Regions from separate parts of the Homo sapiens genome. Here region 2 is linked to region 1. Evidence: fine-mapped expression QTL. A gene starts in region 1. The other region holds a variant in brackets. All regions are shown on one strand. Distances are from middle to middle. Region 1 holds the start of USF2 (upstream transcription factor 2, c-fos interacting). Region 2 overlaps MAG (myelin associated glycoprotein).

Evidence for each region. PIP is the estimated chance that this variant, and not a neighbour inherited with it, causes the effect.
Region 2: its variant is fine-mapped to the expression of USF2 in whole blood (TOPMed, PIP above 0.99).

Annotation. Positions count from the first base shown.
Region 1 is chr19:35,259,680-35,275,441 of GRCh38, reverse strand. USF2 (upstream transcription factor 2, c-fos interacting) reads right to left here and starts at 6,480. Exons shown (of 10, transcript NM_003367.4): 1 at 6,279-6,480; 2 at 5,950-5,996; 3 at 5,743-5,861; 4 at 5,439-5,639; 5 at 4,845-4,995; 6 at 4,637-4,724; 7 at 4,301-4,359. The coding sequence starts at 6,340. LSR (lipolysis stimulated lipoprotein receptor) reads right to left here. Exons shown (of 10, transcript NM_205834.4): 4 at 13,461-13,517; 5 at 12,750-12,896; 6 at 8,910-9,083; 7 at 8,704-8,763; 8 at 8,475-8,606; 9 at 7,708-8,333; 10 at 7,478-7,618. The coding sequence ends at 7,583. It overlaps LOC105372380 (a long non-coding RNA gene), which reads right to left. Exons shown (of 2, transcript XR_935939.3): 1 at 15,621-15,762; 2 at 14,040-14,443. RefSeq lists enhancers at 4,385-5,124, 11,053-11,102, 12,620-13,318 and silencers at 5,412-5,731, 5,872-6,061, 7,220-7,369, 7,470-7,539, 7,620-7,699.
Region 2 is chr19:35,303,800-35,319,561 of GRCh38, reverse strand. It overlaps MAG (myelin associated glycoprotein), which reads right to left. Exons shown (of 11, transcript NM_002361.4): 8 at 9,401-9,688; 9 at 8,919-9,015; 10 at 7,545-7,644; 11 at 5,755-6,272. The coding sequence ends at 6,108. Among named protein-coding and RNA genes, the nearest start is that of CD22, 18 kb to the left of the region's middle. RefSeq lists enhancers at 338-517, 7,115-7,614, 7,615-8,116, 13,945-14,832. The variant A/G (reference allele first, on the strand shown) is at 11,265.

The sequences.
Region 1 (15,762 bases):
AAAAAAAAAGAATTACCTTAAAAAGCTGGGGTTGGGGTGTGCCAGGGAAGCTAAAGCATGAAACCTAGCAAATTGAATCCAAAGTGAGTAGAAGGGGCCGGGTGCAGTGGCTCACTCCTGTAATCCCAGCACTTTGGGAGGCTGAGGCAGGTGGATAACCTGAGGCCAGGAGTTCGAGACCAGCCTGGCCAACATGGTGAAACCCCGTCTCTACCAAAAATACAAAAACTAGCTAGGTGTGGCAGCGGGCACCTGTAGTCCCAGCTACTTGGGAGACTGAGGCAGGAGAATCACTTGAACCGGGGAGGCAGAGGTTGTAGTAAGCTGAGATTGCGCCACTGTGACAGAGCGAGATTCCATCTCAAAACAAAACAACAAACAAACAAAAAACCAAGTGAGTAGAAGCATGAATTAGTAACATTAAGAGTAGAAATCAATGAAACGGAAAAAGCAATCTAATCTGGCACCTAAAAATCAGATTTCACATAAGTCTCGATTTCTAGCTTCTCAGAGTTTCTGGCAACAGTGGCCCTAGATTCTGACAGGGCAGCAAGGGGAAGGCACTGGGCAAGGGCCACCCTTCAGGCAGCGCACACATGCCCCAGATCACTGGGGGCCCCCCACAACCTTTCCTATCTTTTTCTGACACAAGGTCTGGGTCTGTTGCTCAGGCTGGAGGGTAATCTCAGCTCACTGCAACCTCTGTCTCCCGGACTCAAGCCATCTTCCCACCACAGGTTCCCAAGTAGCTGGGACTGTTACAGGCATGTACCACCAGGCCTGGCTAATTTTTAATTTTTTTGGTAGAGACAGGGTTTTGTCACATTGCCTAGGATGGTCTCAAACTCCTGGGCTCAAGTGATCCGTCCGTCTTGGCCAAAATGTAATCCCAAAAGTGCTGGGATTCCGGGCGGGAGCCACCACACCCAGCCACACACCCCTTCCTGAGATGCCAAGTGCACCTCCCTCCCTCAGGCCCCTGCAGGCATTTGAGTCTGTGACTCTGGGATAAGCTCCTGCAGTACCAAGAAGTGGTGGGAAGGAGGGAAAAAGAAGTGAGAGAAGCGGATCTGAAATCACCACAGAAGAGAAACTTGGGGTTTGTGGCCATAAGGGAAGAAGAGGGCAGAGTTGAAAGCGGCTCTGGTCTTAGTTTCTGGCTTGGGCAGCTGTGACAGGGGTAGCTTTTGCTGCTCTGCAAAGAAGAAGGTTGCATGAAAGCCTTTGGAGACGGGAGATGGCACATTCTCTTTTGGGCGAGTTGAGTTTGAGGCATTACAGGGATGTCCAGAGACAGAAATCTCGAATAGGTAGTTCAAAACGTGGGGCTGGAGTTGCAGTGAAAGGAAGGGAATGGATGGAAACACAGTTCCTTGCATTACCAGGAGCCAGGTGGTGGGCGAAGCCTGGGAGGACATCAAGGAACAGTCCTCAACTTTTTGTGAGTCACACACTCTTCTGCAGCAAAGAAAAAAGAGGAACACCTACAAGGGGGAACAGAGTTTGGGGGATACTGACCAAGAGCTTCCGAGCCCATCGCTGGGCCTCACAAGTCATACACCTGAGGCCGACGGGAGGGGCCGGACCTTATGAAACACCAGCAAGACTGGGTGTGGCAGCTCAGGCCTGTAGCCGAGGCCGGAGGACTGCCTGAGGCCAGAAGTTCAAGACGAGCCTGGGCAGCATAGCAAGACCTCCACTCTACAGATAAAAAAAAATTACCCCATGTGATGACGCCTGCCTGTGGTCCCAGCCACTCAGAAGCCTGAGGTGTGAGGATCGCTTGAGCCTGGGAGGTCAAGGCTGCAGTGAGCTGTGATTGTGCCACTGTACTCCAGCCTGGGTGACAGAGTGAGACCCCCTTCTCAAAAAAAAAGAAACACTCGCAGCCAAAGCAGTTTCTCAAGCTTGTCCACTATGACAAATCACCTGAAGAGCTGATGGAAAACACAGATTCCCCGGCACCCCCATCTACTCACTTGGAACTGGGACAGCCCTGGAAATTTCACTGTTAACAGTGGGGTAGGAAAGGCAAAGATCACAGGAGAATCAGAGAGGATGGAGGAGAAAGGAAGATTCCAGAAAGGAACAGAGGGAAACAGGCAGCATCAGATGCTTGGAGCCCAGACAGCAAAGGAGGCCAGTGGATGTGGCAATGGGGTCACCACGGGTGACCGGAAGTGGAGCTGTTTTGGTAGAGCCATGAGCCAGATGGCTGAGGGTACTGGGAGGATGAGCAGATTGGGGCAGATGCTCTGCAAGTCAGGAAAGCGGAGACAGGACGGAGCTGGAGAAGTGGGCAGGTGATGAAGACTGCTTCACAGGGTGAGAAAGTTTCAAGGCTGCCTGGAGTCAGATTAACTAAGGGAGAGGCGGGGGTGAGAGTGGGGTGGGAGGGTTCTGAGTCCTCTCTTCGCCTTACTGTGTGGCCACCAAGACTCACTGCATCCCCACCAGGTGCCCGGGGCGGCTGTGCTTCCACCATTTCACAGAGGGAAGACAGGTACGGAGATTAAGAACCACCCTGACGCCCCACCACAGGTAAGTCGTGGGGCTGGGGCTGCTCTGGGGGCCCCTCAAACTCACTGCATCTCAAAACCAAGCTCAGATGCACCCCTTCCCTTCCAAGCATGGAGGGGAGTTCAGCACGAAACCCTTATTCTCCAGCCTTGGAGTCCTCCCCACATTTCCCCCAACCCCTGCCCTGTCTCAGGCCTGACAGTCGTATGGTCTCCTACCTCCCAGCCCCTTCCCACCACTCTTGCCAACAGCCTCCACAACCCAAACCCCTCTGCTGGCTTCTCATCACCCTGGAATAAAACCACAGGAGCCCAGACAGCCACACTGGGGACTTCTTCCAAGGTCCTCCACCATCTGGCCTGGGCAGCCCCCTCCACTGCGCCAACTTCCTCTTTCCTTTCCTGAATTCTGCTCTTCTGCAGACACACCATGGCGGCCCTGGCTCAGGGCCTGGCCTGTGTTCTAGCTCTTCCCTCTGCCCGGGACTCTCCTGAGGTTCTCAACAGGCCCCTTCCCTCAGGTCGCTTCAGGGATCTGCTTCAATGTCACCTCTCGAAGAGCCCTTCAGAGCACACTACCATGCCGCCATCACCCGCCACCTTCTTCCCCAGCTTTCCTCTCCTGCCTGTGACTGCCTGCACTGCCTGATGCGGCTGTGTGACTCCCATCTCTCCCACCAGAACGCGCACAGAGAGCTGAGACCTTGTCTGTCCTATCATCTGCTGCATTGCCATATCTGAGGACGCAAAAGGGGGGCTGGTCGTAGTATGCACGCGCTGAATGAACGCCTGAACTCAGGGAGGAGCTGCTCAGAACACAACTACCTGGGCCACAGACCCCAGTCCCATCACCACCTTTAGGACTCAGCATTCAGCCCCTCACTCGGGCATTCGAGGCCTTCCCGATCTTCCCTCCTGAGGCATTCTAAATGGAACTTCTCCCACAACCAAACCAGCACCCCACAAAGTAACCTGACCCACACTCCCCTCTCCCTAGGGAAGCGTCACCCCAGCCCACCCCCCATCAATGTCCCATGAGACCCATGAGACATAAGCCCTCAGGCCTTTGAGCCTCCCTGACGCTCCAGGCCAGACTCCAGACCTGGCACAGGGCCTGTGCCGCTCAGCCCAGAACCCACGGGCAGTAAATATTTGTTGAATGATGGTTGTTTGGGTGTAAGCACTCTCCTGGCACTTGCACAGTGCTGTGCCCACTGCAGTGGCTACTGACAGGCGGGGCGGGACAGTGCTGAAGGCCAAATGACCTGAGGTGAGACCTGGTGTTTCTGGAAAGGGCAGGATGCTCCGGCCTTAGGTAGCCAGAGGCAGAACTTCATGCAGTTTCTCCCTCAGATGTGCTCCCTGGGGGAACAGACCTACTTCTGGAGGCCAGGCAGGCATGGGAGTGCGGGATGTGAGCATGACAGCTGCCACGTGGAAAGGTCAGCCCACGTGAGCCCGGTCAGCCCCATTTTTCAAGTGGGGCAGGCAATCCGTATGGGAGTGTGAAGTCCACCATCTTAGATGTGGGCCATGAATTCAAGATCACCAGCCGGGTCAACAAATGGCCAGTTCCAATTCACACTCCCTGTCCCTCTACTTCTGACACTGTACTCTCCCCTCGTTGCTCACTTTCTACCTTTACAGCGTCCAGCAAAGCCCTCTGGAGCACTTGTGGCCTGCCCAGGAGTGGCTTCTCTCTCTGTCACTCCACACTCCAGGGCTGGCTGAGCCTGTGAGGGTGGTGGTCAGGGGGACCCGGAGCCACACCTTGTCCTCACCTTCGTTGTGCTGGGCTCTTCTCCTCTCATCTCGGGGTGTTCTGGTTCCATCAATTTTTCTACAAGAGGAGGAAAAAAAAAGGGGGCATGTATTATCGCAGAGCTGTTTGCCCAAGCATCTGCTAAGTATTAGATTTGAAAATTATCTTTGCAAGGTAAATCCATCTGCAAAAACAAAAGACATGATACTTTATGTGCACTAGAGCAGCAGAAACAGGCAAAGAAAAAAAACATTACACCATGTGCCCACTTCATGCTAACTGCCCAGCTTCTACTCCAGAAACCCCTCTTCCTTCCATTTCAACACCAGGCCCTCCAGGTGTCCCCTGCACATACGGAGAGTAAGGGTGTGTCCGGGGGGCGATCGTCCTCTGTGTTCCTGTCTGAAGCACATCCTGGGGCGTCATCATGACGTAGAACTGGCCTGCAGGGAGAGTGGGGGGTTAGTGGCAAGGCAGGGTGAAGTCAGAACTGGCTGGGGGGGCTTCCCTCCCTGCTGGGCCCGTTGCCTCCCCCACCTGCCAATCTGACTTCTACTCCTCACCTCCAGCCTGCAAGCTCTGGTCTGTGGTCTGTACGGACACAGCCGTAGTATCTCCCACACTGGACGCTGGGAAATAGGCAAATCGTGCCTCCCCGCTGACAGCCTCGGCCGCCGGACTGCCACCATTGCTGAAGGGATTTTGGATCACAGCCTGGGGAGTAGGAGGGCAGAGGCTACCCTTAGCTTTCTCTGTTCCTCCATCCCGTCCCCTCATTGCTGTGCTTGGGGTTTACTGCATTCTCTGCAATTAACAGGAGTGGGGACTCCTTCTGCGTGTAGCATTCTGTCCTGTGTTTCAAACAGCCCTGGAACATGGCGGGAGGTCAGCGATCACTTGCTGAGCAAATCCGTTTCGCACTCTAAGAAACTTTCCTCTTAAGACACATCATTCCCATTTTGCGGGAAAAAAAAATTCCAAGAGCACTGTCCCCAGGTTTCACGGTGCACAACAGGGATCTGGCCCCATGCAGCCTGAGGCCTGAAGGCAGCATCCGCTGGGCGACACCTGCCCCACCCCCGGGGCTCCCCAAGAGCAGAGCCAGTGTCCCCTCTCCACTCCCTCCCCCCCCCACCCAGGGGTGGCAGGGCACCTACCAGCGGGAAGGGCGCTGCAGGACCTGGGGGCACAGAGGCAGCGGCGGGGCCCGGGCGCTGGGCTGCCCCGTCCACACCCACCTGGGTCACAGCCTGCTGCCCCCCCGCGAAGGCAGCGGTGGACACGACGCTGACGGCGCCAGCTGTGTCGCCCTGGCCGTCCAGCTGACCATCAGTCACCTGGACTACGCGGTATGTCACCTGCAGGGGGCGGCAGAGCGGCGAGGCCGGCGCTGGGGCCAGGTCCGAGCCTTCCCGGCGCGCCCGCCCGCCCGCCCGTTCGCCCTCGCGGCCCGCCGCTCACCTGTCCTCCATTTGTCTCTGTGCGGAACTGGTACTGGATGTTGTGGTCGCCGAACGCCGCCTGCTGGACGCTGGTGATGGCCACCGCTGTCTGCTCCTCCGCTCCTGGGCCGTCCCCGCCTGGGGCCGAGGAGGGTCGGGGCACGGTCAGGGCCGCGCCGAGCGCCCCCAGCCCTCCCCGGGCGCGGCCGGCCCGGCAAGCACTCACCTTCCTGCAGCTCGACGCCCTCCTCCGCCTCGGGTCCCTTGTCGTGGCTGCCAGGGGCACAGGAGGGAGCAGGGTCAGCGCGGCCCGCGCCCGCGCCCCCGCCCCCGCGCCCAGCTGCAGGGCCCCAGTCCCACCCGGCCGCGCCTGAGGCCGGGGGCGCCGCCGAGGCCGGGGGCCGGGGGCGGGAGGCGCCAGGTCCCCCCCGCGCCGGCGGCCTCCATTTTGAGCCGGGCCCGCGGCCGCTCGGGATCATGGCGGCCCCGGCCTGCAGGCCGCGGGGCCGGGGCCGGGGCCGGGGCGCGGGGGCACGGCCGGGCCGGGGATCTTACCTGGCGGCGGCAGCAGCGGTGGCCGAGGCAGCGGGATCCAGACCCGGGTCCAGCATGTCCATGGGGGGGGCGGGGGCGGGGGGGGCGCGGGGCCCGGGGGGGAGGGGAGGGGAGGGGAGGGAGGGAGGGGAGGGGGCGGGCGGCCGGGGGGGCCCCGAGCCCGGCGCTCACGCCGCGCGGCAGGAGGGGACGGAGGAGATACGGGAGCCGCTCGCGCTGATCACGGGGACAAACAGTGGGGTCATGTGAGGAGGAGATGCCGCCGCCGCCGCCGCAGCCGCCGCCGCTCCTGCAGCCGCTGCAGCCGCCGCCGCCTCCGCCTCCGCCCGCCCGCCGGCTCCGGGCGGCCCGAGGCTCCGGGACGCCGCGCGGCCGCCCCCAGCCCACCCAGCTGCCCGCCCGCTGCACGCGGCCCTCAGGCCTCCTTCCCTGAGCAGCCGCCGCCGCCGCGACTTTTTTTTTTGAACACGGCCCGCCCTGGCTGGCCGCCGCCAGTGCCCTGGATCGCCGGCTCGCGCGGCCGCCGCCCGGCTTGGCCCAGTCCGGCGGCGGATCGCTGCTGCAGCCGCCGCCGCTTTCTATTTTTCCCCCTTTTTTTTTTCCTCCTTTACTTGAGCTGCGCGCGCGCGGCGGCGGCGGCGGCGGCGGCGCGAGCCCCGGGGCGGACGCGCGCTGGGGGGAGGCGGCCCGGGGCGCGCGCGCTGGTCTGTCTCCGGGGGCGGGCGGGCGCGCGCGAGCCCGGGGCTCCGCGGGGCGCGAGGTCGCCGCGCGCCGCCCTGGTGAAACGCGGGTCTGGATGGAACGTCGGGGTACCCGGTGCAGGGGCTGGGGTCGTCGGGGGCCAGGTGGGCTGCCCGAGTTTGGAGACAGTAAAGTAGGTCGGTGGGGGGCTGGGGGGGATGGGCTGGAAGGGGAGAGGAGCGCGCGCGCGTCCCGGACGGCCAGCCTGCGGTGCGCGAAGGCGGAGGGCCGGGGCGCATGCGCACGCCTGGGCGGGGCCGGGGCGCGCACGCAGGCGGGCGGCGGCTGCGCGGGGCACGTTCTCCGGCCGGCGGCGCGGGCGCGGGCCGGGCCAGGCTGGGTCTCTTCCTCCCGGCCCCGGACTCCGGTGCCCCCGGGACGCGGCGCTTTACAGACGCATACGGGAGCAGCCCCGGTCCCCCGCCCCGCGCGGCCGAACAAATGGTTCTCTCCAGAGCTTGTGATTATACGTTTTATTAGACTCGGGAGGGGTATGGCAGGGCTTCATCAGTGTTCCTTCAAATTAAAAAAAAAAATACAAAAGCTACGTAGAAAACGTCAGATCAGACGACTAAACTTTCCCGACTCAGGGCCAAGTTCTGCAAGGGAGAAAGAAAGAAGGGTATGAGCCGCGGGGACCGGCTGGGGGCCCAGGGACGGTCTGGACGCCAGGGAGGGCGGCCCTCACCTTCTTGAGCCTGCGCTCTCGGGACGCCTGCGAGTCGGTCTCCGAGTACGGGGGCGGCGCGGGCGGGTAGTAGGCCTCTTCCTCCTCCTCCTTGTGGGGTCTCCTCCTCTCCTCCGACCCCTTCTTCCTCACAGCCTCCTCCAGTAGCCGCCCATCATAGGGGAGGTCCCCGGACCTGGAGCCGTTGTCCCGAGGGTCCCGGGTACGGTGGTGGTGGGACCTGGGGTCGGCAGGAGGGCGCTCCCGAGACCTGAAGTCGTCGTAGTGGGGGTCCCGGGAGCGTGGGAAGTCCCTCGAGTCGTCTTGGTCATAGAGGTCGTCCCGGCTGCGGCTCCGCGGGGGCATGTAGGCCCGGCTTCTCCCACCATTACTCGTGGGAGACCTGCTCCCTGACTCGGCGGTGCTCGGCGGGGTGAGGTCGTCCAGGGCGTCCACGGAGCGGGCCCGGGGCCGCCTGGCCCGCCAGCCCCCGCCTGCCTGCTCCCTGGCGGGCTCCTGGTCCCATCCCCTGGGACTCCGGGGGGAGTGGCCACCCCACTCCTCATCCCGGATCGGGGTGAGGGCAGGGCCCCGGGAAGGCCGAGATCGCCAGTCGTCCTCGTGGAGGGAGGTGACTTCACTCATGGCTGCAGGGAAGGGGGGTGTCACTGACTGCTGGAGGAGCCCGGGGTCCAGGGTTTGCACCAAGAGTCCCTGCGGCAGGTATCAGGGAGACATGTTTCACCCCCCCACCTTAAAAGCCCTCAGACCCCAAGGCTCCTGCTTACCCCGCTCCACACGGCCACTGGGGGGGCCAGGTCGAGAAGGGTCGAAGTTGGCCAGCTCCTTCTCCATGTAGTACAGGACCCGCATGGAGTCGTCCTGCTGGCTGGCCTGAATCCTGTAGCCACTGCGGACTTCTAGGGACAGGGGGGTGGTGGTCGGTTTGGGAGGATGGATCCTGGCCCACCCCTCTCCCTTACAGGCACATCCAACTTCGGGACGATGGATTCTCACCAGAGGCCACACTGCTGTCCGTGTCCCGAAGCAGGGGTACATAGGAGCCTTGGCCACCAGCTGGGGGAGAGTGGCTGTCAGTGGCCGCGCACCAGGAGCAGAGCCCCTCCTCGGCTCCCAAGACACTCTTCCTTCCAGCCCCTGCCCCTCAGTGTCCAGATGCCCAGCACACTCCCACCAGCTGTTCCTGCTTCCCCCGGCCTCACCTGAGCTACTCCTGTCAACGTCTCCAGGGTATCCTCCAGGGTACCCGTTGTAGGCAGGGCCCATGGGAATCATAGCTGGTGGGGGTGGGGTCTTGGCGGGAGACAGGTGGGCATAGGTGCTGGGGGCATAAATGCTGGGAACACCTGAGGTGGCTGCTTTGCCGGCGGCATACACTGTGAGGACACAATCAACAGGAGAAGGGGGATGAGGCAGGAGCCAGGCTGCCCCATACCCATTGGGTTCCGGAGGGACCTGGGCCTGGACCTCCTTCCCAAGCCGTCCTCTCCGCTGTAGAGCTTCCTTGGACATCTGAGTCCCTGTTGGTCCTCATTCCATTTCTGCAGCATCCCTGAGGCTGGGGGACACCAGCTTCACAGAGACCCCACCCCACTTCCTGTGTGATTTTTCAGAGGGTGCACGCAGGCACCCACAGCCCCAGGGTGGCAGAACAATGTTTCATTTAACAGCATGGTAATTCGCCAACATTTGTCAATCAAAAGGTTTTACCTAAACTTCCAACTCCCCAGCTAACTTACTGGAAGAAGTGGCCACCCATGGTCTGTGTGTTTACAGGGCAACAAAGCTGCCCTTTATATAAAGCCCAGATGCTGGGTCCACCACTGTCCCCACAAGCCGAAATCAAGTATCCTCTTTGGCAGCCAAGCCCCTGTTCTAGAAAAAATGAGTCATCTGGGAGACGTGGGTCCTGCCCACCTGGTCACCTTCCAGATTGAGATGCAGTGGCAGGAGCCTCGGGAATTAACTTGCCTGCCCCGGCCAAGCAGCAAAGTGTCTCCTCTAGTGTTTCTAACTCATGGACTGCACCCATTTCTGCCTGCCCCACCAGGCTCTAGGCTTGACAGTTCAAGGTAAGATCCTCCTCCCTTCCTTCCTCCCTAGGGCAAGAGGCTTGCAAAATTCCTGGGCCCTAGGCAAGTGGCTTCCTCCCTGGGACCCCAACAGGAAAATGGAGGAGAGAGATGGGCCCAGAGAGGGTGCCTCACCTCTGATTTGGTTTGGAAGCAGAAGACTAAGTGCACAGCCTAGAGGAAGCCCCTTCATTAGCTCAGGCAGCCTGCAACTTTATCATCAGCAGTGGGACCTGCTGCCTCCTGAAGGGTGGGCGGAGGCTGTGGCAGCAGCAGATGTAACAGGGCCTCTGCCAGGGAGTTAATGGGGCCCTGGGTTGGGGTAACAGGGTCTCCGGATGGAGGAAATGTGGTGTGGGGACAGGGGAATGTGGCATTGGGACCAGCATTTAGTCCTGGCCCTAGCTCTGGTCTTAGTGGGTTCACTGCAAACTTGGTTGCAGCCCATCTGTGAAATGGACCTAACACTTACTCACTGAGCAAAAAGCTGTCAGCTGAACACAACAAGAGGGAGGGGATGGGATGGCCTGCATAAGCCTCCAGGGAGCAGTGGAATTTTTTCAGGGAAGTGATCCTTTGAGGAACCAGGTTGCACACCACTGACTTCAATGACTATAAAATTAGCCAGCGACTTCCTTAATGCTAACAACAACCCATGAAGTCAGGACCTAACAGAAGGAAACAGGACTCAGAGAGGGAAGGCTGCTTCTCTGGGGTCACTCTGTGTGCACCAGGGCTCTGACTGGTGCCCTGTCCCTCAGTCACTACTGAGGCTGATAGTGGCAGTGCCCAGCAGCTGACAGACGTAGAATATTTTATATAGGTTGGGCCCCATGCTCAATGGTGTGCACATGAGCTCGCCAAATCCCCAGATGCACCCAGTGTGGTGAGCTCTGCCATAAGCCCCATTTTATAGGGGATGACACTGAGCCCTAGGGAGGGAAACTGCTCACTGGGCTTCTGAGCAGGAAGGTGTCAAGCAGGCCTCAGCTCTCCACCTGCCCATGCTTGCAAGGATTGCCTGGCACTTCACTGTTCATGTATCTTGGACTGTGTGCACACAGGCTGGTCTACCCAGACACCCTCCTGAAGGAAACCAAGGACTGGCAACAGCTGTGGTCCCCGAGGAGGGGAAACGGGACAGCAGCTAGAGGGATGCTGAAGTGTCCATCAGTGCCACTTAGTGTACACACTGTGGTCTGGTGTCCCAAGGCTGATGGCTGTGACCACGTCAATCAGCTCCTCTGTGAAAGTGTCCCGTTGGGATATTCACAAACATTCACAGAAGAGAGACAGGAGCAAGTCTTTTTCAATTGCACATGTCTGACTCCTCTCATAGAGTTAGGTCCCTCTCTCTCTGTCTTCTGTCTTCTCTTACCTTCCCCTGCTTGGTTTGCTTACTTCCCCTTTAGCTCTCATCTCACATCCAGTCCCAGCTCTCCACAGTAGCCATGCTGGTGTGCTAGATACGACCCTAGACATAGTAGCTGGGTAAAATGTGCAGCATTCCTGTGGGTATGTGTTTTCAAACATTTGCTTAAATTTGGCCAGGCATGGTGGCTCACACCTGTAGTCCTAACACTTTGGGAGGCCAAGGTAGGGGTGCGGGGGAGCGGACTGCCTGAGGTCAGGAGTTCGAGACCAGCCTGGCCAACATGGCAAAACCCCGTCTCTACTAAAAATACAAAAATTAGTCAGGCGTGGTGGCAGGCGCCTATATCCCAGCTACTCGGGAGGCTGAGGCAGGAGAATAGCTTAAACCCGGGGGGCGGAGGTTGCAGTGAGCAGAGATCACGCCACTTTACTCCAGCCTGGGCGACAGAGTGAAACTGTCTCCAAAAAAAAAAAAAAATTTGCTTAAGTTTAAGGCCAGGTGTGGTAGTTCATGCCTGTAATCCCATCACTTTGGGAGCCTGAGGCAGGATCACTTGAGGTCAAGAGTTCAAGACCAGCCTGGGCAACATAGCAAGACCCTGTCTCTACAGAAAATTTTTAAAAATTGGCCAGCATGGTGGCACATGCCTGTAATCCCAGCACTTTGGGGAGGCTGACTTGGGAGGATCACCTGAGGCCAGGAGTTTGAGATCAGGCTGGGCAACATACTGAGACCCCGTCTCTACAAAAAACAAAAATCAAAAAATTAGCTGGGCATGGTGGTGTGTGCCTACAGTCCCAGCTGCTCCAGAGGCTGAGGCGGGAGGACTGCTTGAACCCGGGAGTTTGAGGCTGCAGAGAGCTATGATCGCACTGCACTGCCTGGATGACAGAATGAGACCCTTTCTCTAAAACAAAAAAAATTTTTTTTGCTTAAATCATGTAGTGTTGTAAACCTTGTTTGGTTTCTTAACTTTTTCACTTAACATTTTTTTTTCTTTTTTTTTTGAGACAGAGTCTCACTCTGTCGCCCAGGCTGGAGTGCAGTGGCGTGATCTCAGCTCACTGCAACCTCCACTTCTTGGGTTTAAGCGATTCTCATGCCTCAGTCTCCTGAGTAGCTGGGATTACAGGCGATCACCACCATGCCCAGCTAATTTTTGTATTTTTAGTAGAGAACTGGGTTTTACCATGTTGGCCAGGCTGATCTGGAACTCCTGACCTCAAGTGATCCACTCGTCTTGGCCTCCCAAAGTGCTGGGATTACAGGCGTAATCACTGCGCCTAGCCAAGATTTGGTTTTTTTAGAGGGCTTTACTTCCATGTGACTAGTATCTTGTACTGTTGGACATTTTTACCATGTGTATGGATTATACTTACAAAAGAAAAGAACAACATAAATAAAAATAAACTAAAAGTTGGAGGAAGTAAACGACAATCTAAACAGCAGACCCTCCTCAGCCTACTTTCTCCCCACTGGCTAAATTCACACCCTCCAGACCAACGCCACTGTCCTGGGGGCAGGTGGATGGCCACCTCCTTCCCTTGGATGCAGGATGTTGCCCAAACCAGGGTGGCCATGAGCGGGACACTTACGGGCCTCGGGGCAGCAGCACTTGTCTGGGCAGCAGGGGCACCTGACGTAGCAGCAGCAAGTGTGCGGGCAGCACTGGCACCAGCAGATGCCCAGGAGGAGGAAGATGAGGAAGGCAGCCAGGCATACCACAACCACGAAGAGCCAGTCTGCAGAAAGACAACAGGCCCTGAGCCCGGAGGCCTGGGAGGGAACAGGGCTAACGGCACAGCAGGGGTACATGGTGCGGAGCCAGCACTGAGGTCGGGGACGATTTGCAAAGCTCACCAAGGAACCTGCAGCCCTGGCTGGATTTTTTGTGCCAGAGGCTGGGCACAGCACACTCCCCATTCTACCATCCCGGCCATTCCCCAGTTACGGCCCTCCCCCAGGTGCAAAAAACACAAGGCAGAAAACGAGGCAGCCTGCACAGAGGGAGACAGACTGCAGCCCCCAGACCAAAGAGAGAGCCAGCTGCCCAGACGCCACACCCTCAAGAGCACCGCAGGTGCCAGTCACAGAGCCCTGGCCTGCACCCCAGGCTCTCCTCAGCCCAGCCTAGCCTAGGCCCAGCGCCAGACCACTAGATGCCTCAGAGCCACAGTCAGGCCAGGTTAGTGAGGGGTCCACAGTGAGCAGGGTTTAGTGGGGAAGGGGATACTAACTAGAGTCAGAAGCAGTAGGTGATGTATGGGAGCTCCCGAGAAGCCCAACTCAGGATCCACCCCCCGTACCTTCTATGGGCCCCGCCTGAAAACCAGGTAAGAGCTCAGCCACCCCTGAGGTCCTCCCTGGAGGGACAAAAGAGAAACAGATTATGCTGGCCAGAGCCAGCCCAGGCTGTGCCACCCCCGAAAGCCCAGCTCCAGGCTGGCCAAGTGCAAGGTGTGCCCTGAAGCGGGAAGGGGCTGGGGGCTGAAGCCCTAGTGCATGGCTCCTACCCTCCACCCGCCCACATGTGGGTGCTTATAGGTAAGAAACTCCCATTGCATAATCCACCTGTGTTATGCCACGAGGGCTCCAATACAAATCCCAGGGGGTTCTGAGGGCTCTACCTCAGCTTGGGCACCCTAAGTTTCCCTCATTCATAGGTCTTAGCACCCCAAAGGGCTCCAACCACGGTGATAGGGATGTCCTGTTCCAGCAGGCACAGGGACCTAGGGCCCACGAAATAGGATCTCAGCTCTGTCGCCCAGTCTGGAGTGCAGGGGTGTGATCATGGCTCACTGCAGCTTCAACCTCGTGGGCTCAGGCGATCCTCCCACCTCAGCCTCTGGGGTAAGTAGCTAGGGCTACAGGCATGTGTCACCACACCTGGCTGAAATGGTTTAATTTTACTTTACAAATCTGAACACAAATTAACACAATATACAGGAATAAACTCTTTGTGACAACATAATCACACATTTTTTTTAAAACAGGAAGGGACCCATGAAGGCAAAAATACCCACATATGAAAGTCATATGCAGTCCTGGTTCTGGGACCCACAAGGTCTCCATCTCTACTCATGCACTGTCACATTCACGCATCTCAGAGCCGGTTCTTGTCTTCCCTCGAGTGCCCCTGGAGCTCTGAGCCCCACCAGTGTTGTGTCTGAGGGGCCTCCACAGGCCCAGCTCTGCACCCACGAAGCCCTCCCCAGAGCTCATGCACTTGGCACTATAGGCCCTCGCAACAGGACAGAGGCATGTCAGTCACAGCTCTCAAAGCGTGGTCCTGTCCACAAGGCCAAAAGAAGAAATTTTAGAATAACACTAAGATGTTATTTGCCTTTTTCACTTGTTCTCCCATGAATGTCCAGTAGAGTTTCCCAGGCTCCCTGATGCCATCATCGCCCTGATGCCTAATGGACTATATGCGTGTGTGTGTGTGTGTGTGTGTTTGTGTTTCTTGAGCCAGGGTCTCTGTCACTCATGCTAGAGTGCAGTAGCATAGTCACGGCTCACTGCAGCCTTGACCTCCTGGGTGCAAGCGATACTCCTGCCTCAGCCTCCCAAGAAGCTGGGCTCACAGGTGCATGCCACCATGCCTGGTTAATTTTAAAATTTTTTGTAGAGTCAGGGTCTTGCCATGTTGCCCAGTCTTCCTTGTGTATCTTGGGCTTGAAAAATCTCCCCATTTTAAGGCCGGGCAGTGGCTCATGCCTGTAATCCCAGCACTTTGGGAGGCCCAGGTGGGTGGATCACGAGGTCAGGAGATCGAGACCATCCTGGCTAACATGGTGAAACCCAGTCTCTACTAAAAATACAAAAAAAATTAGCCGGGTGTGGTGGCGGGTGCCTGTAGTCCCAGCTACCTGGGAGGCTGAGGCAGGAGAATGGCGTGAACCCAGGAGGTGAAGCTTGCAGTGAGCCGAGATCGAGCCACTGCACTCCAGCCTGGGCGACAGAACGAGACTCCATCTCAAAAAAAAAAAAAAAAAAGGAAAATCTCCCCATTTTAATTCCTAATATGTTAAGCAACAGATAGACATAAAACCCACAGAAACAAACAAAAGCTCTTGGAGACCCTCGATAATGTTTTAGAGTGTAAATAGACCTGGAGACTAATTTTGGGAACTGCTGATGCAAATGGTGCATTTTACCGAAGAACAGGCAGAGGTTCCTGGGTCACTGGTGCACGTGTTCCATCCCCCACACATGAACTCTGTCTTGCAGCCCAAGTACCCCCCAGTCACGTGCTCATTCACACATGTGAAGATGGCAGTGTACAGCCCAGCGGCATCACTCATGCAGAGCACATGTCATACAAGACTCCATGTGTTGGCTTACAGCAGGGCACCTGGCCGATGGCAACATCCCCCTAACACAAGGAGGCCTCCCAGCCACACGGACACCCCGCCCTGCCCCTGGGTGTCTGGAATCGGCTTCGTTTCAGCTGCACTCAAACTTACACAGTGTGTGTGCCATGCAGCGCCATCCCAGCAGGGCACACGGCAAAACCGCTGTGCTTTGGCGAGGGACTCGGGTGAGATGAGGCCTTGGGGATGTAGCAAGAGGTGGGTCGATTTTGCACACCATCAACTGTCCTCATTC
Region 2 (15,762 bases), 44 kb before region 1:
TTTTTTCTACATACAATGTCTGCTGTGTTGCCCAGGCTGGTCTTGAACTCCTAGAAAGCACTTCTCAGCAGTGCGGTGCATCTCTACCCCCGGCCAGTCGCAAGAGCCCAGCCCTGCATGATCACCCACCTGGGGAGGAGGCTCTGGAGTGGCCAGTGCTGGCTGGGAGCTCTTTCATCAAGGAGGATAATGGAGCTGCCTGCCCCAGGCACTGTCCCAGGGACAGGGTGGGAGGCGGGCCAGGGATGGATCAGTCATCTCCGTCAGGAGTGACTCAGGAGGTTGGCAGACCGGGAGGGACAAAGAGACCCGTGTCATGACCATGGCCTGGTGCCTGGGTGTCCTCCCTCCCACACGTGGTGGCCCAGCCCTACTGGCACGTGAGGCCATGAGACCTTCTCACCTTCCTTCCTGCCTGGCCAACCCTCATCTCAGCGTCTGCCCCCATCTCTCTGAGTCACTGTGTCATGTGTTCTGACTCTTCCTCGGCTTGGCATTTCCCAGGGAGGGGGTGCCATCTGCCTTCCCTGTCCCTGAGGGCCTCCCTGGGCCTGAACTCGGCCGGAGTAGATCACTCTTGCGTTCTCCACTGAACCTGCCCCTCCTGCTTTCTTCAACCTCTTAAGGAAGCTGCTGGAGTCACCTTTGACTCTTCAAGTGAGTCTCACCACTTCCTCCTCCAAAATGGGTCCTGACCCCACCCCTCTCCCCATCTCCACTTCCTCTCTCTTGGACAATGGCCAGGGCCTCCCAAGCCCTGTCCCTGCCTCCACTGATAGCCTGTGCTCACTGTCCACGCAGCTGCCAGTGGGCCTCTGAAGCCTCAAGCCTGCCATCACACCCCTCCGAACTCACTTCTCCAGCGGCTTCTCAACGCGCTCTTTGAAAGCCCAAGTCCTGGCTGGGCACAGTGGTTCACACTTGTAATCCCAGCACTTTGGCAGGCAGAGGCAGGCAGATAACTTGAGGTCAGCAGTTCGAGACCAGCCCGGCCAACATGGTGAAACTCCGTGTCTATTAAAAATTAGTTGGGCATGGTGGTGCGTGCCTGTAATCCCAGCTACTTGGGAGGCTGAGGCAGGAGAATCACCTGAACTCGGGAGGCGGAGGTTGTAATGAGCCGAGATCATGCCACTGCACTCTAGCCTTGGTGACAGAGCGAGACTCCATCTCAAAAAAAAAAAAAAAAAAAAAACCTAGGATTAAATTCCATTGCTGGGCGGGATGGCTCACGCCTGTATTCCCAGCACTTTGGGAGGCTGAGGCGGGTGGATCACCTGAGGTCAGAAGTTTAAGAGCAACCTGGTCAACATGGTGAAACCCCGTCTCTACTAAAAATATAAAAATTAGACAGGCGTGGTGGTACATGCTTGTAATCCCAGCTACTCAGGAGGCTGAGGCAGGAAAATTGCTTGAACCCGGGAGGCAGAGGCTGCAGTGAGCTGAGATTGTGCCACTGCACTCCAGCATGGGCAACAGAGTGAGACTCTGCCTCAAAACAAACAAACAAAGAAACAAACAAACAAGCCCCAGTCCTGCCTGTGGCCTACAAGGCCCTGTGTAATCGAGCTTCCTTGGGCAACAGAGCGATACTCTGCCTCAAAACAAACAAACAAAGAAACAAACAAACAAGCCCCAGTCCTGCCTGTGGCCTACAAGGCCCTGTGTAATCGAGCTTCCTTGGGCAACCACTCTGGCTCCATCACTCCACTCAAGCATGCTTCTTTCCTTCTTGTTCCATGAAGGTAACAAGTACATTCTCGCCAGGGGCCTTTGCACTCGATTTTGGCCTTCCCTGGACCCACATTCCCCAGGAACCCACAGAGCTCCCTCCCTTACTTCCTTCTGGTCTCAAGTCAAATGACTTCTCTTTCTGAAATGGCAGCCTGACCCAGCACAGCCTGACCTTGCACCCCTCTGCAGTTCCTTCACTGTCAGATGTGCGGTCATGTGTTTGCTTGTCTTTCTGATCGTTGTCTGTCTCTTCTGCAGAATGTCAGCTCTGGGAGGTCACAGAGTGATTCTTTTTGGGCACTGCTGTGACCCTGGGGCCCAGCATAGGCCTGGCACACAGAGGTGCTCAGTGAGCATGTGTTGAATTCTGGTGGGGTCCAGGAGCTGGGTGGGGAAAGTCTGAGAGAGTGAACTTGAGTTCAGGTCCTACTGGTTTGTTTGTTCGTTTTTTGAGACAGGGTCTCACTCTGTTGCTGAGGCTGGAGTGCAATGGTTCAATCTCGGCTCACTGCAAACTCCATTTCCTGGGCTCAAACTATCCCTCCCACCTCAGCCTCCCGAGTAGGTAGGACTACAGGCGCATGCCACCATACCTGCCTAATTTTTGTATTTTTTGTAGAGACAGGGTCTCGCTATGTTGCTGAGGCTGGTCTCAAACTCCTGGGCTGAAGCCATCCACCAGCCTCAGCCTCCCAAAGTGCTGGGATTACAGGCATGAGCCACCGCACCTGGCTCGGTCCTACACGTTCGCCATGGCTGAGTGCCGGTCCCTCCTAAGGATGGTCTTTGTGTCAAATTCCCTCATTGTTTCCCAAACTTTAGAGGTTTGCCTACAACCTTCAGGAGCCACCTGCAACATGTTTATTTAATACATTTTTAAAATCAGTTCAGTTGATTGATTTCTTTCTTATTTATTTATTTTGACTTAGCCTCATCCGAAGCTGGTGCGGCATTCTGGTTTCCTGTTGTTCCGGTGCATACTAAATGAAGCATACACAGTAGCGTCACAGTGGCTCCCAGGGCCCTCAAGCTGCACTTTGGGCAGCGTGAGTTACTCCCCGATCCCTGGTTATTGACAATGTTTTGCTCCTCTGGGTGAAGTCCTCCCAGGCCAGACCTGCTGGAGCCAGAGTCTGTCGTCAGGGGACAGGTGTGTCAGGGCAGGGCTGGTGAGCATGTATGCAGGGGATCTGGAAGAGGCTTCCCTCCCGGCTGCTGAGAGGCCCCTGTGTATCCCCAGCCCCATCCGATGCCTCTCTGGCCTTGCTTCAGCTCCTGGAATTTTGCTAAACATGTTCCCACTTGGGGCCTTCACACATGTGTGAGTTTCCTTCCATAGGGAAGCCTCCCCTGCCCCCTGTGACCTTAAGTCACACAGCGGTCCCCAACCTTTTTGGCACCAGGGATTGGTTTCATGGAAGACAATTTTTCCATGGGCCTGAGAGTGGGGAGGGAGCTGGGGATGATTCAAGCACATTACATTTATTGTGCACTTTATTTCTATTATTATTACATTGTGATATATAATGAAGTAAGTATACAACTCACCATCATGTAGAATCAGTGGGAGCCCTGAGCTTGTTTCCCTGCAACTAGACGTTCCCATCCGGGGGTGATGGGAGACAGTGACAGTTCATCAGGCACCATCTGTGAGTGTGCAACCTAGATCCTTTGCGTGCACAGTTCACGATAAGAATCGTGCTGCTATGAGAATCTAAAGCCGCTGCTGATCTGACAGGAGGCAGGACTCAGGTGGTCATGCTTGCTCGCTGGCTGCTCGCCTCCTGCTGTGCAGCCCAGTCCCTAACAGGCCACAGACCAGTATCTGGGTGTGCAGTATAGCACTGGGGACCCCTGCTGTAAAAACTCTGAGCTTCTCCTTGGAAGCCGGTGTCACAGTTGCAGTTTGATATTGTGCATGAGATTCTTTCATGTCCTTGTCCCTGCAAGACTGTGAGCTCCGTGAAGAAAGGGCATGCACCCTCCCAGCTTGGACAGGCCCCACAGAGGGTTTCCCTTCCCACAGCCCGGCCCCCCACACGTCTCCTTTCCTCCTGCATGTGGACTTCCCATCCCAGCCAAGCAGCCCCATGTCACCTCCCCTCCCGACCTGGTTTGTTTATTCCTGCCTCTAGGCCTTTATTTTGGTCTCTGTGCTGTGTCCTCTGCCTTCTTCAAAATGCAGGGAGAGACCAGGCACAGGGGCTCATGCCTGTAATCCCAGCACTTTGGGAGGGTGGGTTGGGCGCATCACCTGAGGTCAGGAGTTCGAGACCAGCCTGGCCAACAATGGTGAAACCCCGTCTCTACTAAAAATACAAAAATTAGCTGGGTGTGGTGGCACACGCCTGTAGTCCCAGCTACTTGGGAGGCTGAGGCAGAAGAAGTGCTTGAACCTGGGAAGCAGAGGTTGCAGTGAGCCAAGATCGTGCCACTGCATTCCAGACTGGATGACAGAGTGAGACTCCATCTCAAAAAATAAACAAAAAAAACAAAAAACAAAAAAAAATCAGGGAGAGCTGCCGTCTAGGAAACCCTGCCCTCACTGCCCGCAGCCCACAGCTTAACCTTACTGCTCCTCCAGCACCCGGGCTCTGTGAGCAGCTGTTGGTTCTCACCAAGATGGCCGTGTAGCACAGCGTCAGAGTGTGGCCTCCGAAGCCAGTGGTCGGGGCTCAAATCTGGGCTCCACTGCTAACAATTGGGGACCACAGAACTGATGTAACTTCTCCATGCTTCAGCTGCTTGTTCTCAAACGTGCACGTGCATCAGAATCCACCAAGGACTTCTCAAAACACAGATTCCTGGGCCCCACCTCAGGGTTTTTGATTCCTGAAGTCTAGGGTGGGGGCTGAAAATTTGCCTTTTTAGCAAGTTCCTGGGTGCTGCTGATGCTGCTGCCTAGGGACCACACTTTGAGAACCATTGTCATAGTTATTAGGGAAGGTAAATGAGGTTAATGGAGATTAATTAATGCAAACTGGGTAGAATCATAGAAAGCGTTCAACAACTGTTAGTTATCAATCCCATTTATACCAGACACTCTGGCCCTTTTTAACTTCCTGACAGGTATTATAGAAAAAGTGCATTTGATACAAAAATTAGCCGGGCGTGGTGGCGAGTGCCTGTGATCTCAGCTACTTGGGAGGCTGAGGCAGGAGAATCACTTGAACCCAGGAGGCGGAGGTTGCAGTGAGCTGAGATTGCACCACTGCACTCCAGCCTGGGTGACAGAGACAGACTCCATCAAAAAAAAGAGAGAGAGAGAGAGAGAGGGAGGAAGGGAAAAGAAAAGAAAGAGTGCATTTGAATCAGAAGCATCAACCCCATGGCCTGGACACACCGTTTCCGAGCTCTGGGACCCTGGGAAAATCACCTAACTTCTCTAAGTCTCAGTGTTCTCATCGTCACAGAGCTGTCCTAGGAGACCCTTCTCAGGACAGCCTGAGCCTCTAGAAAGGGCTCAGTATACAGCTGGTGCTTAATTAATGTTTCTGGAACTGAATGTAGTGATGTATAAAGGCTGACGCTGCAAATTGCAGCATGAATGTGAGAGATGGTGGTGAAACCAACACGGGCTGGTGAGACCTAGATCTGTGGCTCGCACTCCAAGCTGCAGGGACCAGGAGGTAATCTCAGTGCAGGAAGCCGGCCAGGTGTGGGACAATAGGGAGTGGTGGGGACTGCGGCCAGTGCACAGGACCCTCCCTTTCAGCAAGTCATGTCCACGTACAAGTGCAAGCCTGGTGCTGTCAGCTGATCTGACTGCGGCAAAAACCAGCATGAGGATTTTTATGTGAAATCATCCATAAGTCAAACCAGACCCAGCTCGCAGCTACCAGCTCAGAGTGGGAGCAACTTAGTGGCCACTGGCCCTGGGTTCAAGGCTAAAATCCCTGGGCCCTTGCCTGCATACCAGGCTCAGCCGAGGGCAAGGAGAAATTCTGTCATCGTTCTGTAGACGGTGGGATGGCAGGCTGCCCAAAGGCGGGTCAGAAAGCATCAGGATCTAGACTGGCATTTGGCTTTGGGGCATTTATTTCATGTCCCTTTTGTACAGGCCCCAGGGCCAGGTGTGGGGGCAGGAGACCAGGCAGGAAGTAGCAATAAATAACACGGACAGACAGAGCTCCCCTCCAGACAGATGAGGGTAAAGGAGGTTAGAGAGGAGCCGTAATGAGGGCGTGGGGGTGCTGGCAGGGAGGGGCAGCTGGGAAGGAGGGGGAGGTCAGGCCCCCAGGACCTCACTGTCACCTGCCTCACTCCCCTCCTGCCCCAGCCCCCGATACTTTTGGGAGGAAGGGAGCCCACAGCCAGTGGGGGCCAGCGAGGGTCCTGAGGGGGGTCAGCCACGCAGGCTGCCCCCAGCTCCTTCACTTGACCCGGATTTCAGCATACTCAGCTAGCTCCTCCGTCAGCGTGTAGCTGTCCTTGGTGGGCCGTTTCCCCAGGTCCGAGTGAGAATAGCTCAGGTCCAGCTCTGGGGGCTCACCCCGAAGGCCCAGCAGCCTCCTCTCAGATCCCAGGCGCCTCTCGCTCTAAGAGGGGAAACCGCCCATTAGCAGGGTCCTGCTCCCTGCCTTTTCCCAATGCAGAGGACAGAGCGTTTGCACCCTCAGAGCTCCTGAGTTCAGTCCCAAATAAATCCCTGCGAGAACCTCCTTTCTCAAGGACCGCAGGCCCAGCGAGCCCTGCGGTCACCAGGTCCCACTCTGGAGCTTCTGCCAGTGTTAATCATTGCTGAACTTGAAATTTGCCTACAAATTCAGTTTCTCCAGGAAGCTGCTTCTTCTTCTTCTTTTTCTTTGAGACCCAGGCTGGATTGCAATGGCTCGATCTTTGCTCACTGCAGCCTCCACTTCCTGGGTTCCAGCAATTCTCCTGCCTCAGCCTCCCAAGTAGCTGGGATTACAGGCACCTGCCAACACGCCTGGCTAATTTTTTGTATTTTTAGTAGAGACAGGGTTTCACCATGTTGGCCAGGCTGGTCTCAAACTCCTGACCTCAAGTGATCCATCCGCCTCAGATTCCCAAAGTTGTGGGATTACAGGTGTGAGCCACTGCCCCCGTCCAGGAAGCTTTCAACATAGGAGTTTTGAGGGCACACAATGTAACCCCTAATACCTTTTTGGGTGAAAACCACCTAGTCAGGACCCCATCTTTCCAAATTCCTGGAAATACCTGGTTTGGTACGTGCCCCCCCATGGGTCCTGCATGGGTCCGCCCTCAATCTGGGAGGTCCTGCAGGTGACATGTGGGTTCCCCCCACGCTTCCCACCCCTCCCTCCACCCCCTAGCCACAGGAATTTGGACACACAGGACGGTGGCCACAGACAGAAGGGAGCTGCAACAGGACAGACTAGACAAGGCCAGCACTGCCGGGCAGGCCCGGACATCACCAGAGACCACCTTGACGCCTGACAGGGACACACGGACATGCACGCCAACCCCAGGGCCCAAGGAGGGCCCAGAGGAGGGCACACTGAGGCCCCCGGAACCTACCTCCTGGGGCACTCAGTGAGATTCCAGGGTAGAAACCTCTTTGGACTATTGGAGAAGGAAATGCAGTCACAGACACAGGCAGGGAGGGGAGGGGGCCCTTAGGCCCCACGTCCCATCGCCCCCTACACAGCTTCGGCCTGGGCACCTCCTCCCCAGCCTCCAGGTCCAACCCAGCCCTGGAATGTCCTTCCTCTCCTCCTGTGAGAGGCCGCTCCCACTCCCCTGCCCCTTGGCCTCACAGGCCTTTCCCAGGCCTTCAGTGTCCCTGGCATCCAGGTTCCCAGGCCAGCCTGGAGCCTGGTCCTTACCTCGTACTTCTCTGGTGCCCCAGAGATGCGGAAGTCGCTGCTGAACAGGACGGGAGGGTTGTCCCCTGCCGAGAAGCTGGGGCTCTCTGTCACGTTCTTTCTGCAGGGCAGGACTCGTCAGACCTCTCTCTGCCCTCCCTTTCTGCACCCCCACGTGTTTTAGGAGTTTGGCTCAGGGGACCTCAGAGTTCTCCCACCCATCTCTAAGATGTGGCAAGCAGCCCTTTCAGAACCACCAGCCTCTCCTACCCACACAGCCCATCCTTCCCACCTCTGTGGCCCCTGCCCGGCTGGGGACGAGCCACCTGGCCCCTGAGCTCTGCCGTTTTTCAGGACCCCCACCTGGATTCTCCAGGTTCCCCTCATAGGCTCTGGGTCTTTCTGCCCCTCTTGCCACCAGGATGTGGAGCAGAGGGGTTAATTTATTTCTCAGGACAGCTGATGTGTGTGTGCCACAAGAAAGAAACACGGCTGCAGCTGAGTTGGGCCAGGTGGGTATGGTTTGGGGCTGGAGAGGCTTTCTGTCTGTCTGTCTGTCTGTTTGTTTGTTTTTAGAGACAGGGTCTCTCTTTGTCACCTAGGCTGGAGTACAGTGGTGAAATCATAGCTCACTACAGCCTCAACCTCCCAGGCTCAAGCGATCTTCCCTCCTCAGCCTCCCGAGTAGCTGGGACAACAGGCACGTGCCACTAGTAGCTAATTTTTTTGTTTTTTTGTAGATGGGGTCTCCCTATGTTGCCCAGGCTGGCCTCTAATTCCTGAGCTCAAGAATCGTTCCACCTCAGCCTCCCAAGTAGCTGGGACTACAGTGTGTGCCACCATGCCTGGCTAATTAAAAAAAAATTTTTTTTAGAGATGTGGTCTTGCTATGTTGCCCAGGCTGGTGTCAGATTCCTGGCCTCAAGCAATCCTTCCTCCTTGGCCTCCTAAAGTGCGGGATAACAGGCGTGAGTCAACGCGCCCGGCCAAGGCCTATTTTTTTTTTGCCCCAGATGTGTGTAATCTTTGGGGCTTCTGGCGTCAAGTGGACCTGCTGCTGTGGCTGCAGTGGGGTACCTGGGCTTTCCCCACCACACTGGAGTGTGTAGGGGAGAGTTCCTAGAGATAGGGAGGCTGTCAAAATAGAATGTGGGCAAACAGGTCTCAAATGATGTGTGTAAAGGGCTCAGCCCAGGCCCTGGTGTGCCCCTGACCAGCAGGGGCTGGAATTAACAGGAACCCTCTCTCCTCTGTCCAGCTGAACATTCCCAGAACAGAATCTGCCTTCTCTACACTTATGGTGCTGCCTTCCCCCACCCACTCTGGGCCTCCATCTCCCACCAGGTCCCCTTTTTGGAGACTCCCATCCCCAGATCAGCCCCAGCTGGCACTCACTTCCTGCGTGTCTGGGTAATGTAGCAGACGATGGCAATCAGGATGGCAAAGGCGACCACGGCGCCCACAGGCCCGATCTTGGCCCACATCAGTCGATCTGAGGACAGAAAAGACCCAGGCGCCCTTAGGGCTATGGGTGGTGGTGACGACACCTGAGAACTTTGGAGACATGCTGGGATGACAGTCAATGTAGTCACACAGCCGGGGCATCCTTGCACTGACTGATTGGCACGGAGCCTCCTCGTGCCAGGGCAATCCCTTTCATGCTAGAGGGCCCTGGGGAGGGGCTCATGCCTCAAAGGTCCTAGCAAACTCGGGGCAAACTCAGGGCGGCTTCTCCTCTCCAACCGGAAAGGGAGAATTTGACCTTTCTGTCAATCTGCATAGCCCATGCTCTGTGGCTGTTGGTCAGCCTTGGGAGCTTGGATCTAAGACGTGCCCGCTCCCTCCTGTGGCTCCCACCCCAAGTCCACGCCACTCACGGGCTCCCTGGAAGGGCAGCTCCAGGCTCTTGGCGCCATAGAGGTTCCTCGCGGTGCAGATGACGCGGGGCGGGGCCTGGGCCTGCCCCCGCAGCGTGAGGATGCTGGTGAGCACGAGGCCGCTGCGCTCCGAGTACACGAACTCCCGCTCGCTCTCGTTCACGGTCACATTGCGCGATGGCAGCTCAAAGGCCACGGACGGCTCCGGGTTGGACTTCACCACGCACAGGCACTGCACCGTGTCTCGGGCTGCCGCGCAGTGGGACTCCAGGAGGAGCACAGGGGCGACTGCAGGGGCAAAATCAGGTCTGAGGGTGGCCCGGAGCCAACGCGAGGCCCGGCCCCGGAGACTCCTTGGCTCAAGGCAAGGCCAGTGTGGCCAAGGATGGGGGCGGTAGCTTCCTGTAGGGCCCTCCAATTTCCCCTCCTTTTTTCTCTGTCCTGACTGAGAGCGCCTTGACCTCACTACGACCCCGCCGGCTGCCTGTTTTCACTGCAAGCTTCACTAACCCACGCCTGGGGCCTTGAACATTCCCAGGCACTGATAAAGGTGTTTAGGTTGTTGCTCAAAACACTGAAAGAGGCCGGGCATGGTGGCTCACTGCTGTAATCCTAGCACTTTGCGAGGCCGAAGAGTGAGTGGATCACTTGAGGTCAGGAGTACGAGAGGTTACAGAATGAGACGCTGTCTCAAAAAAACCCCAAACAACAACAACAACAAAAATGAAAGAATGAAAGAAACCAGCCCCAGCCCTGGGCCAAATTCCTTAAACCCTCATGTAAACCCATACCCTGACCCTCACGGACGTGTCTGGGTAGACCCTCCCTTTCTCTCGCCGTAGCACTGTGCAAGTTCCCCTCCCAAATGCTTTGGACTGATGATCACCTGGTGGTTTAGTGCCTCTCTCTTTGGAATCCCAAGTGGCCTCATTTCGGGGTGGTTTGGGGTGCTCTCTTGGGGCAATTCTTCTGGTGCCACTTTTGAGGCGACTCTAGCCTCAGCTTCAGCCTGGACAGAGCACTATGTCACAGGGACGGGCCGTTTCTCCTGGGCCCTGGCTCTTACACTCTCTCTAACCTCATTCACCTTGTAATACATAAATCAGATCATGGCACTCTCTGCTCAAAACCCTCCTTCTGTTGCTCCGTGGTTCACCTAAAATACAAATCCTTTATTTTTTATCGTTTAGAGACAGGGTCTGGCCCTGTCGCCCAGGCTGAAGTGCAGTGGCAGTACTATAGCTCATTTGCACTCTTGGCCTCTAGTGATCCTCCCGCCTCAGCCTCCCAAAGTGCTGGGATTACAGGCATAAGCCACTGCGCCCAGCCACATTTGACCATTTTTGACATGCAGAAAAAATTTCACATAGTTCAATGTAATGTATACAGCAAAAAGTACGAATATTCACCCTAAATGAAATCAGTATAGATTACAAACAGCCTTGTGTTCTTTAGGCGAGATTTTGCTGTCAAATCAGGGTGGTGCCAAATTTGCAAAAAGCCTTTTGATTTTAAAGCTTTATGTTCAGAATTGCAGAGGACGGTAAATCTGTCATACTCATGATAGTTACTGGAGGGTTTTTGTTTGTTTTTGTAGAGACAGGGTCTTGCTATGTTCCCCATGCTGGTCTTGAACTCCTGAGCTCAAGCAATCCTCCTGCCTTGGCCTCCCAAAGTGCTGGGATTATAAGGCGCAAGCCACTGTGCCCAGCCCAAAATACAAAGTCTTTCATCTACAAGGCCCCTCAGGCCCTGCCTGACCACACACTCTCTCCTTCTCTCCCCCTGGCTTAGTCCTTTCCAGCCACACCGGTTCCTTGCTGTGTCTGAAAATCGTGGAGCTTTCTCCCACTCCAGGGTCTGT[A/G]CGTTTCTCCCTCAACTTGGAACACTTCCATCAGTTGCCTGTGGAACGCCCTCCCTCGCTCCAAACTGGCCTCTACCCATGCGGCGTCTCCTTCTCTGACCACCCAGGGAAGCTGCACCTCGCTCCACGTATCATTCACTCCCTGCCTCACTCAGTTCTCCTCCCCAGCACTCACCCTCCCTGCATCACACACTTACATAAGGGGCCTCCTGTTTCCATCAAGACAGGGGCTTGCTCCTTCTCCACTCTGGGCCCCACACGTAGAAGGGAGGAACCATGGAACTCTCCCAGCCCCCGGCCTCCCCAGACCCTTGGGGCTCACACAGGCTTAGACTATCCCCTCCTTTCTGGCTTCCAGGCTGTGCTCCTTCCTTTCAGTCTGCGCTGCAGATGCCCCCCACTTCCTCCCCTAAAGCCGCCTTGAACCCCGGCCCTTCCTCACCCATGAGATTCCCTCCTGCCACTAGCACCAAACACCACCCTCCACCCAAAGTCACTTGGTTGAGCTTTGCTTTGCTGCCACTGGATTACAAAAATAGTACTGGTAGGTTTTTTCTTTCATTTTCCAAAACAGGAAATTATTATTATTATTATTGTTATTACTATGATTTTTGAGACGGAGTCTCTCTGTCGCCCAGGCTGGAGTGCAGTGGCACGATCTCTGCTCACTGCAACCTCTGCCTCCCAGGTTCAAGTGATTGTCCTGCCTCAGCCTCTTGAGTAGCTGGGACTACACGTGCGTGCCACCATGCCTGGCTAATTTTTGTACCAAAATACGCAATTGTATTACAGCACAGAATGCTGCTTTTTAAACTGTGTTCTCTTTCTTGGCCTGAGAGTCCAGCACCCTCCTTGGCTTGCTCTAGACTGAGCACTGGTTCTCAGTGAGTTCTCACCAAAACCCACTTACACACAGGCAAGAGACCCTTGGCTCACCTACCCCACCTATTTTCAATTGCTAGCAAAAAGAATGTGCCGGTAACGGTGGTGGACCTGGGAGTCACACGGGCACACGGATTCACGGCAGGAATGGGAACCTCTGTGCAAACATCTCTAAGTCTACTGAATAAAAAGTCCTGTTCGGGCAGAGCTGCAATATGCTTGCTATAGCGTTAACCAGCTAACACGCCACGGAGTACATTAATAACAGCGAACCTGAACCGACAGACATAAAACTTTTTCAAAGCACTTCCACTCAAGACAGCCCCACTGGTGCTCTGGTGACAAAGTGTTCGACCTGGATGTCGGCGGAACGCCGACACCCTGCCGGTGCACGTGCTTAGTATCTTTTCAGACAACCTGTGAAGCTGCGGAAACTGTTATGGGACTCTAGACAAACCTGTAAGACAAAGGTACAAAGAATGAGGAGTTTGTGGTGGGATGGATTTGGCTTGAATCCCAGCTCTGCCATCTACTGGCTGGGTGAGGCCACTCAGGCTCCTGGGCCTCTAGGATGGAGTTCTCATCTGTGCAAACCAGGGGGTTACAGTCAGTAACTCACAAGGGGCTACGGGACTCCGAAGATAGGCGCGCAAGTGTGTTGTAAACACTTAACATCCCAGCCGGGTGCAGTGGCTCACACCTGTCATTCCAGCACTTTGGGAGGCCAAGGCAGGAGGATCACTTGAGCCCAGGAGTTTGAGACCAGCCTGGGCAACAGAGCAAGACCCCATCTCTACAAAAAATTAAAACATTAACTGGGCATGGTGATGTGTGCCTGTAGTCCCAGCTACTCAGGAGGCTGAAGTGTGAGAATCAGTTGAGCCCAGGAGGTTGAGGCTGCAGTGAGCGATGATCAAACCACTGCATTCCAGCCTGGGCAACAGAGCAAGACCCTGTCTCAAAAAAATAAAAAATTAAAATTAAAAATACGTAACATCCCACCCAAGTACTCATGGGTGGATAGACAGAACCATTCCCGCAGAGAGGTCACATGAGCAAAACCTCAGCAGCAAAACACACAACAAATATTTAACCTGGAGTCCAAAGGAAAAATCAGTGAGAAAGATGATGACATCCAATATCCACAGAGTATGTAGCACTATGAACACTCAGTATTGTTCTCTTAGTTCTTCTTTTTTGTGGGGGAGTGGGGGGGTGGGACAGTCTTGCTCTGTCATCCAGGCTGGAGTGTGGGGGTGGGACAGTCTTGCTCTGTCATCCAGGCTGGAGTGGGGGGATGGGACAGTCTTGCTCTGTCATCCAGGCTGGAGTAGGGGGGTGGGACAGTCTTGCTCTGTCATCCAGGCTGGAGTGGGGGGATGGGACAGTCTTGCTCTGTCATCCAGGCTGGAGTGGGGGGGTGGGACAGTCTTGCTCTGTCATCCAGGCTGGAGTGGGGGGCTGGGACAGTCTTGCTCTGTCATCCAGGCTGGAGTGCACTGGCTCCATCTCAGCTCACTGCAACCTCCACCCCCCGGGCTCAAGCGATTCTCCTGCCTCAGCCTCCTGAGTAGCTGGAACTGCAGGTGTGCGCCATCACGCCTGGCTAATTTTTGTATTTTTAGTAGAGATGGGGTTTTGTCAGGTTGGTCAGGCTGGTCTCGAACTCCTGGCCTCAAGTGATCCAACTGTCTCAGCCTCCCAAAGTGCTGGGACTACAGGTGTGGGCCACCACGCCCAGCCTAATTCTCTTAGTTCTCACAGCCATCTTTGTGGTAAGATACTGTTATGAACCCTTGCTAAGGGTTGCAAAGCTGAAGTCACTCGCCTGAGCTCAGGCAGGAGGATGGGGACAGAGCTGGGATTCTAGCCCAGGTCTGTTCAGCCCTGTTGGGACTGGATGCCAGTCAAACTTCTGTTTCCTTGTATTAAACTGGGTTGAAGAATGGTACCCTCCCCTCAATCACATGGTTGTAAGAACAAAATAGGTCAATGCGTACAACGTACTCAAGCTAGTTCCCTAGACATCTCAGGCACTCGGTAAGGTTGCACACTTCCTGCATGCCCCGTGCCGTTCAGGGCTCTGGGGTTGGCAGGTAAGACAGAAGGCCCTGCTCAAGGGTCACCACCACTGTCAGTGAACATTGGAGACCTGGTGCCAGGGAACATTGACTGTGTGGAGAGGGAGGGGGCCTGAGGGTCGCACTCTCCAAGGGCAAGCACTTTGACACAGGCCTGGGTGAAGAGTAGGGAGCTGGCAGGTGGGGCAGGGGACAGGGCCACTGCTCCCCTCAAGTCTAGCAGGTGAGGCCTGCACACTCCACATCTGCCTGCGTGTTCGTTTTCAAGAGAAGCCGGATTGAGTCCTAGAGTGCTAAGAGCTGTGAGGGAGGTGAGGCAGCCAGAGGTTTAACAGCTGGGGCAGACAGGAGTCTGGAATTATCGGGCTCGGACCCACTTTTATAGCTGCCTGGCCTCAGGGAATTCCGCCCTTGAGTTTTCTCCTTGGTAAAGGGGATAATTATAACACACCCCTGTTTCACAGGGTGACCCTAGAATTGAAAATGAGCCAGATAGGCTGGGCATGGTGGCTCACACCTGTAATCCCAGCACTTTGGGAGGCCGAGGCGGGTGGATCACTTGAGACTAGGAGTTGGAGAACAGCCTGGGCAACATGGAGAAACCCCGTCTCTACTAAAAATAAAAAATTAGCTGGGCATGGTGACGCATGCCTGTAATCCCAGCTAGTTGGGAGGCTGAGGCAGGAGAATCGCTTGAATCTGGGAGGCAGAGGTTGCAGTGAGCCAAGATCGTGCCACTGCACTCTGGCCTGGGTGACAGAGCGAGACTCAGTCTCAAAAAAAAAATAATAATAATAATAAAAATAAGAACTGAACCAGAAAACAGCTGTAGAGGATTCAAGGTCTGGCCCAGGGCAGGCCCCTAACGCGCATTTGCTGCCTGCTGCTCTTACTATAAAGGAGAGATCTGCACCCCACCGGAAAATGTATGTGAGTTGGTGCTGCAGGCTTGTTCAAGTACTCCCATCGGCTCCTCTCTCTGACTCTTAAACTGAAGAATCACTGGTGTGGGGTGTAACAGGGATCAGGGGACAACCAGAGGGGGAAGCTGGCCCAGGATAGCACGCACAGTTGGAGGGAGCAGGGGACCACGCAGCCCCGCGCCAGGATCACATCAGCCCCGCTAGGGAACAGAACCAGGAGGGAAAGTGCCTGAAGATTATAGGTCAGCAGGAGAGGGACGGCTTTGCCACGAGAGGTTGCCCCCGAGGACTAACCTGTATCTGCCATGTACTGATTGTCGCCATGTACACAGCACAGAGCATGTACTGTGTAGCAGACACTGCTTTGAATTCTTTGCATGTTGAATGTCATCGAACCTTCTGGCAAACTTGTGTGGTGGGGGCCATTGTGGGCATCGTGAAGACCAGAGAGGTGAAATTTGGGGAGGAGTGCTAGAAGCCAACAGGAACTTGGGAGGAAGCAGGGGAAATGGAAACAGGAAGGCGATATTCCAGAGGGAATTGCTTAAGGAAGGGGAGTCAAAACTGTGACTTGGCTGCTACAACCTGGAGTGATGGCTGTGGGGGTAGGGG